Homo sapiens: one gene and its partner. The protein of the gene in region 1 purifies or fractionates together with the protein of each later gene. This does not show direct contact. Each region holds a gene or a part of one and is shown on either strand. Other genes may lie near its edges.

The links.
Region 2: the proteins of ATOX1 (region 1) and ABAT fractionate together in Homo sapiens (co-fractionation; one large-scale study listed by BioGRID). This does not show direct contact.

Annotation. Positions count from the first base shown.
Region 1 is NC_000005.10:151,742,322-151,745,476, reverse strand, and holds the end of ATOX1 (copper transport protein ATOX1), read left to right. Parts: intron 1-2,517; 3' UTR 2,518-2,655; downstream 2,656-3,155. UniProt on the Homo sapiens protein: Binds and deliver cytosolic copper to the copper ATPase proteins. May be important in cellular antioxidant defense.
Region 2 is NC_000016.10:8,775,340-8,779,363, reverse strand, and holds part of ABAT (4-aminobutyrate aminotransferase, mitochondrial isoform 1 precursor), read right to left. Parts: intron 3,021-4,024; coding exon 2,874-3,020; intron 1-2,873. UniProt on the Homo sapiens protein: Catalyzes the conversion of gamma-aminobutyrate and L-beta-aminoisobutyrate to succinate semialdehyde and methylmalonate semialdehyde, respectively. Can also convert delta-aminovalerate and beta-alanine.

The DNA of each region.
Region 1 (3,155 bases):
CACTCCTGGCTGCCACTGCCCATGTAGTGCATTTGACTCGTGAATTACAATGATCGCCACACCTCTGATGTGGTTTGGTGCCCTGACGTGACTGAGAAAAATGAGGCCAAGAGAGGGGAAGTGATTCAACCAGAGTCCCACCCTGGTGAGTAGCAGAGGCAGGAAGAAAGTCAGATATCCTGAATCGGAGTTCTGTAACTGTTACTGGTGGCATTGTCCCTGTGAATGGGCCCACAGAGACCCCCTGGACAGAGGCTAGCCACACTGACTGGTAGGTCCTCTTTGAGGATAGCCTCCTTCCCAAAGGCATACATTTGGAACCTGAGTCATAGCAGTGTTCTGTGTATGTGGTAACATCACATGCAAGTTACAAGATGTCAGATGCATCTGTTTTCGTCATGCACTTTCCATCCATAGATAGAACCCATATTCAGGAATGAACCCAGGATGAATAATGAGGAATCTAGGATTCTAATTCCAACTTTCCTCATTTCACACTGACTTTGGGGACTTTTTACATTACAGAGATTTGGTCTTCCCATCGGTAAAATGGGGCTAAAACCTCCAACCTGCTTTCCTGCCTTGTGGGGACTGCTGTGCAATCTCTCCACATATGAAAGTTTATCCTCTAGGGAAGTAAAACATCAGCGGTTTCCAGCATGTTGAAGAACAGTGTTTCTTACATCATTCCTCCACCCCTAGGGTTTTGTAGGGAGGGTGAGTGGATGGGGCTTTGGACCCTCCATAGCTCCCAAACGGTCCTGTGTCATATTGGGCTTCCCGTAAGACTGTATTTTATAAAAACGCTCTGTAACAAGAAGGAATGGAGGCAGAGAAGGAAAAAAATACTCTTCCTGAACTAGCTATATACATGGGGAGCCCTAATGCACACATCTTGGATTAGAAACTCCAGGCCTGGGCATACGAACTTTTTTAACTAAAAAAGTAATATCTGTTGGATGTAAACCATGTGTAGCTTAATGTGTTTTTCTCATAGAAAACATGTTTTCTCATGTTATTTTATTGAGATGAAATTCACAAGACATAATAACTATTTTAACCCATTTATGCTGAATATTGCAAAGTTTTTTATGTGAAAAATCAAACCTTGGTGATGACCTTGAACAGTAGGATATAAATAACTCCTGCAAGCTTAGCGTTCCAATAATGGAACACTAGGCATAAATGGGTTAAAGTCTATCATTTAGTGGCATTTGGTGTGTTCACAATGTTGTATGACCACCATCTCTCTCTAGTTTCAAAATTTTTTCATCATCTCAGAAACACACCCTGTATCCATTAAGAAGTCACTCCCCACTACCCATCTCTCCATCCCCTGGCAGCCACTAATTTGCTTTCTGCTACTCTGGATTTGCCTACCCTGGACATGTCATATAAAAAGAATTACATTATATGTGACCTTTTTGTGTCTGCCTTTTTCCATGTAGCATAATGTTTTCAAGATTCATTCAAGTCATAGCATGTGTTGTAAATCATTCCTTCCAATACTTAATAATTTTCATGGTACTTTTAATCTACTTTAGATTTTTTATGATAGGAAGTTTCAAACATGTGTAAGTAGAGTAATAGAATGAATCCCCAAGTACCCGTCACTCAGATCCAACAGTTAGTATTTATTTCACCAAGGCCTGTTATTTTTTGATAAAAGTGCTCTGTGACAAGAAGGAATTAAGGAAGAGAAGGAAAAAAACTCTTCTGGAGCTATCTGTATCCATGTGGGGGAGCCCTAATGCACACATCTTGGATTAGAAACTCCACTGTCCTCATTGTTTCATCTGGGTGATGAAACACCCAGATTATTTTGAAGCAAATTCTAGACATCATGCCCACTCCCTCCTGCCCAGATTATTTTGAAGCAAATTCTAGACATCATGCAATCTTACCTGTACATATTTCAGTAACCATGTATTGTTTGGAAAGGCTCCTGGAAATTCAGATGCACAGTACTCAGTAAGAATCACCCAATAAGCCAGCTTTAGTCCACATGCTCAGGCAGCATGTCTTTGAAGTCTGTTTTAAGAGGCTCCTCAGTGACTGATTTGAAGCCAGGCTTGGGAACCTCAAAGATAGAGTGTTTATTGGTTTTGAAGTCACCTTGATCATCTGACTCTTGGCAGATTTATTTGCCATGATTTTGTTCATTGCCTTTCCAACCTGTAACAGGATAGAGAGTGCTGTTGACTGGGTATCCTGGCAGCCCTGGAAATTCCCCAGAAGAGGGCTTTGGCAGTGATTGGCTTAGCAAGGTTAATGCGTTCCAGCCAACCTAAGTATAACAGACTTCATGGGAGCAGTGTGCAGGGCTGGACACTGGGGCTCTAGTCCTGCTCCTGCATCTGCACCCTGCGTTTTCCACCTCACCCCTGCCTTTTAGTGCAAGACTCTTAGTGCACCCCTGCGTCACCCCTGTCTCTTAGTGCATTTATTGCCTTTGCAATGTCGCTATGTCCACACCAGATGGCACCTTTGTTCCATCTAACTTTCCATCTTTCCTAGGATGCTGATCCTCCCGCTGGCTTCCAGACAGACCTGGGACTTGGCAGTCATGCCGGGTGATGGTGTTCCTGCGGAGACCCTCAGTTGTCCTATTCCTTCCTAGCTTCCCTGCAATAAAATCAAGCTGCTTTTGTTGGAGATGTTGTCTTGCCTGGTCTTGGTGTTGCTTGCTCACATGTAGGTGGTTATGCTTACTTGGGTTGGAGTTTTGAGAGTTCCCACCTGGGAGTCAGACACCCTGTAGATTCTGATTCTTTGCTGTGTGATCTTTAGCAAATCACTTCCCCTCTCTGGGCCTCATTTTTTCCTCACCTATAAAGTGGAGGCATTGACCCAGAACAGTGATCCCCTTTCTTTTCACCAGTTTCATAGACTCTATATTTTGAAAAAATTTGTCTATCAAGTGAATTGCACAAGAGATTATCAAATGTTAAGCAAGTGGAATAGTAGGAAGAGGCTGTGGAGACAAACTGCCTGGGATAGAGTTCAAGCTCCAGTACCTCCTAGCTGGGCCACTTAACCTCTCAGTGTCCACAGACAAAATGTGATGATAGCATCTACTGCAAATGGTGGTTGTGGGGATTAAATGAAATGAAACATGTAAATTAATTACAGCAGTGATTGCTGGTTAAAAAATC
Region 2 (4,024 bases), on another chromosome or scaffold:
CTGGCAGGACCTCCAGGGGGTTAAGAGCTCTGGGGACATTCAGGCCTGGGTTCAAAGCCCAGCTGTGCACATGTGTGTTGTGTGGAGGAAAAAAACCACCACCACCACCACCAGCAACAACAACCAAGCCCAGCTCTGTCCCTCTCACTGTATAACCTTGGGCCACTCAAGTGCCTCTGTTTACCCTGCTATAAACTGAAGGATTTAAATGCTGTTGACCCCACTGGGGCCGTGGTGAGACTTTAGCACGATAAGGTTCACATGTTAAGTCCTAAGCCTGGGGCTGGGCACTTGGTGGATGCTCCACAGATGTTAGCCATCTCCATCGTCAGCTCTTCTAGAAAGGTGGTTCTTCTGGAAGAAGAAATGCCTGTCCTCCCTCAGGGCTTTGAGACTGGGAGCTGTACTGGATTGAATAGTTTCCTCCCACTGCCCCCTAAATTCATGTTTACCTGGAACCTATGACTAGGACCTAATTTGGAAATAAGGTCTTCGCAGAAATAATTAGTTAGGTTAAAATGAAGTCTTCCTGCATTAGAATGGCCCCTAATGCAATGACTGTTTTTTGTTTTTTGTTTTTTTTTTTTGAGATGGAGTCTCACTCTGTTGCCCTGGCTGGAGTGCAGTGGCACTATCTCGGCTCACTGCATCCTCTGCCTCCCAGGTTCAAAGATTCTTGTGCTTCAGCCTCCTAAATACCTGGGATTACAGGCACCTGCCATCACACCTGGCTAACTTTTTTTTGTAGTTTTAGTAGAAACTGGTTTCACAATGTAGGCCAGGCTGGTTTCGAACTCCTGACCTCAAGTGATCCACCTGCCTTGGCCTCCCAAAGTGCTGGGATTACAGGTGTGAGCCACAGCGCCCGGCTCAATGACTGGTATCTTTATAAGAAGAAGACAATCTGGAGACAGACACAGGCACAGTGGGGAGAACACCAAGTGACGCCAGAAGCAGAGTGAAGCCTCCACACGTCAAGGAACATGAAGGATTCCCGGCAGCCACGAGAAGGTGGAGAGGGGCATGGAACAGATTCTCCCCCAGAGCCTCGAGAAGGAGCCAACTCTGCTGAAACCTTGATTTCAGACCCTGGCCTCCAAACTGTGAGAGAATAAATTCTTGTTTTAACCCACACAGTTTGTGGTGATTTTTTACAGCAGACAAGGAAACAAATGCAGGTGCCTAGTCTGGAGGACCTTGATTTCACCTTACTCTCTGCTGTCCATATGAAGGACAGCAAACAAGGGCTTGGAAAACCCCAAATAATTTCAGGGTACTGGGGGCTGAGTTGGGGGAGCAAGTCTTATTTCACGGCAGCTCATTGGTAGAAACTGGAGACATGGTCCTATTCTGGGGGTGACAGAGCCGGGCACCGTGTTAGACACTTATGTGCACAATTTGTTTCTTTTTGTGGAGTATGGGTTCTCACCATGTTGCCCGGGCTGGTCTCAAACTCAGTTGAGCTGAAGGCAATCCTCCTGCTTCTGCCTCCCTAAGTACTGGGGTTACAGGCATGAGCCCCTGTGCCTGGCAGTGGGCACATTCTTGAATCCCCTGCCAGTGAAGAAGGGCTCACTTTGGTCTACACAGATAAGGAAACTGAGGCTCAGAAGTCCTTCCAGCACTTACTCTAGCATGTTCCTTGCACTTGTCAATTGCTGGGGAGCTGGCAGTTTGAACACACCCCTCCCTCTCCCACAGAGTGTGGCCCTGGGATGGTTTAGATTAAAGTCTCTTCCATTTAGACACCCCTTTAGGCCTGCCTGCCACACTCACACACACACATCCCCACACGTCCTTACGGTTAGGAGTGACCACGTGACCAGCTCTTAATCAAGTGTTAGAAGTATTATGTGAGATTTCTGGGAAGGCTGCTAAAGACAAGAAGGGGGCCACTCTGTCCTTCCCTTCTTTTTCCTTCCTATTGCCTGGAATTGAGATGCGATGGCTGGAGCTCCAGGAGCCATTTTGGCCCATGACGAAACCTTGAGGGTAGAGAGTAATCCAGCTCCAGCAGGGGAGGGCAGTGCTGCCGAGTGGTAAGTATGCAACAGGTTGCACAAAGGCGGGAATAATGAACACACTAGAGGGGGTGAGAGAGGGAGTGCTTGGGGGACTCTCAAAGGGGGGATGTCTGAAATTGGTGTCAAAAGATAACCAGGGCCGGGCACGGTGGCCCATGCTCGTGAAATCCCAGCACTTTGGGAGGCTGAGGCAAGCGGATCACCTGAGGTCGGGGGTTCGAGACCAGCCTGGCCAACATGGTGAAACCCTGTCTCTATTCAAAATACAAAAAAATTAGTAGGGCATAACGGCACATGCCCGTAATCCCAGCTACTTGGGAGGCTGAGGCCGGAGAATCTCCTGAACCCAGGAGGCAGCGGTTGCGGTGAGCTGAGATTGCGCCACTGCACTCCAGCCTGGGTACAAAGCAAGACTTGGTCTCAAAAAATAAATAGACAAATAAAATAAAATAAAATAAATAAGAAAGATAACCAGTGCCGGCAGGCGCTGCCCAGCACTTTGGGAGGCTGAGGTGGAAGGATCGTTTGAGGCCAGGAGTTCAAGGCCGGACTGGCTAACAGAGCTTGACCATGTCTCAATATTAAAAAAATAAAAAATAAATTAAAAAAAACAACAACAAAGAAAACCAGGAGTTCAGGAATAGGGGTTGGAATGGGATGGAGGGATAGGGAGGCATCCCCTGCAGAGGACACAGCATGTGCAAAGCCCCCAAGGCTAGGAGCAGCACAGCCCGTTACGAACTGCTGGAACAGCAGGCACAACACCATGCCGAAGAGCTCCAGTGTTGCCCCGGAGGCTGCTGCGGGGAGCCATGGGTGGTGGGGGCGGGGCAGGGGAGGGGGTGTTACCTGGAGGTCCAGCAGTCCTGTGAGCAGGGCCTTCCCGGCATGGGCTGCATTATTTAGCAGGTCCTCCCGCTTGATGATGTTGATGACCTCAGCCAGCAACAGGTTCTTGGACGGGTCCCCCAGCCAGGTGTTGAAGATCCGGTAGGGCTGGAATGAGGAACGGGTGTTGGAAGGCTTCACACACATGCACACCCTGCAGGAGTCACTTACCCCAGGCGCCCCGCCTCCTCTCTTGAAGAGGAGAGAAACTAATCTAGTGGGCATCTACCAGAGGCTGGCAGGGGAACACACCCAATCTCGCTGAATTCTTCTCTACCAGAGGCTAGCAGGAGAACACACCCAATCTTGCTGAATTCTTCCAACAGCAGCCCTGCATGTAGGAACTGCTATGGGGAGGACCAAATCGTCCCATGCACTGGGAAATCCCTCAGTCCCAGGAAACCAAGACAGTCAGTTCCTTAACTCCTATAACCCTCATTTTATACAGGAGGAAGCTGAGGTTCTGGGAGGCTAAGTGATTTGTCTAAGGCAAACGTGACTTACAGATGGAGTTGGGACTGGATTGCTGGCAGTGACCCTCAAAGATCATCCACTTTACCCCTCCATGAATGATTTAGGGTGGCCATGCGGCTAACTGAAACACCCTTCCCAGCCTCCCTTATGGCTAGAAGTGGCCATGTGACTGGGTCTTAGTCAAGTATTGGAAATAGACATATTATGTGAGATTTCTAGAAAGGCTGCTAAAGACAAGAAGGGGGCCACTTTGTCCTTCCCTTCTTTTTCTTTCCTACTGCCTAGAATTGAGATGTGATGGCTGGAGCATCAGAAGCCATTTTGGACCATGAGGCAACCTTGAGGGTAGAAACTACATGTAGGAATGGTGAAAGGACGTTGGCCCCTGATGGCTGTGTGTGTGTGTGTGTGTAAATCTGTATGCACACATGGCAGTACACAGTGTAGTGGGTAAGAGTATGGGCTCTGGGTTGGAATCCTGGCTTTGTCACTTAACAGGCTGTGTGACCTTTGACAAATTACTTAACCTCTCTGTGCCTGATTCCTCATTAGTCAAATGAGGATAAAAATAACAGCTACTTGGTTAGATTGTTCTCAGGATTAAAAGTATATGAGAAATACTTAGAACTAGGCACATA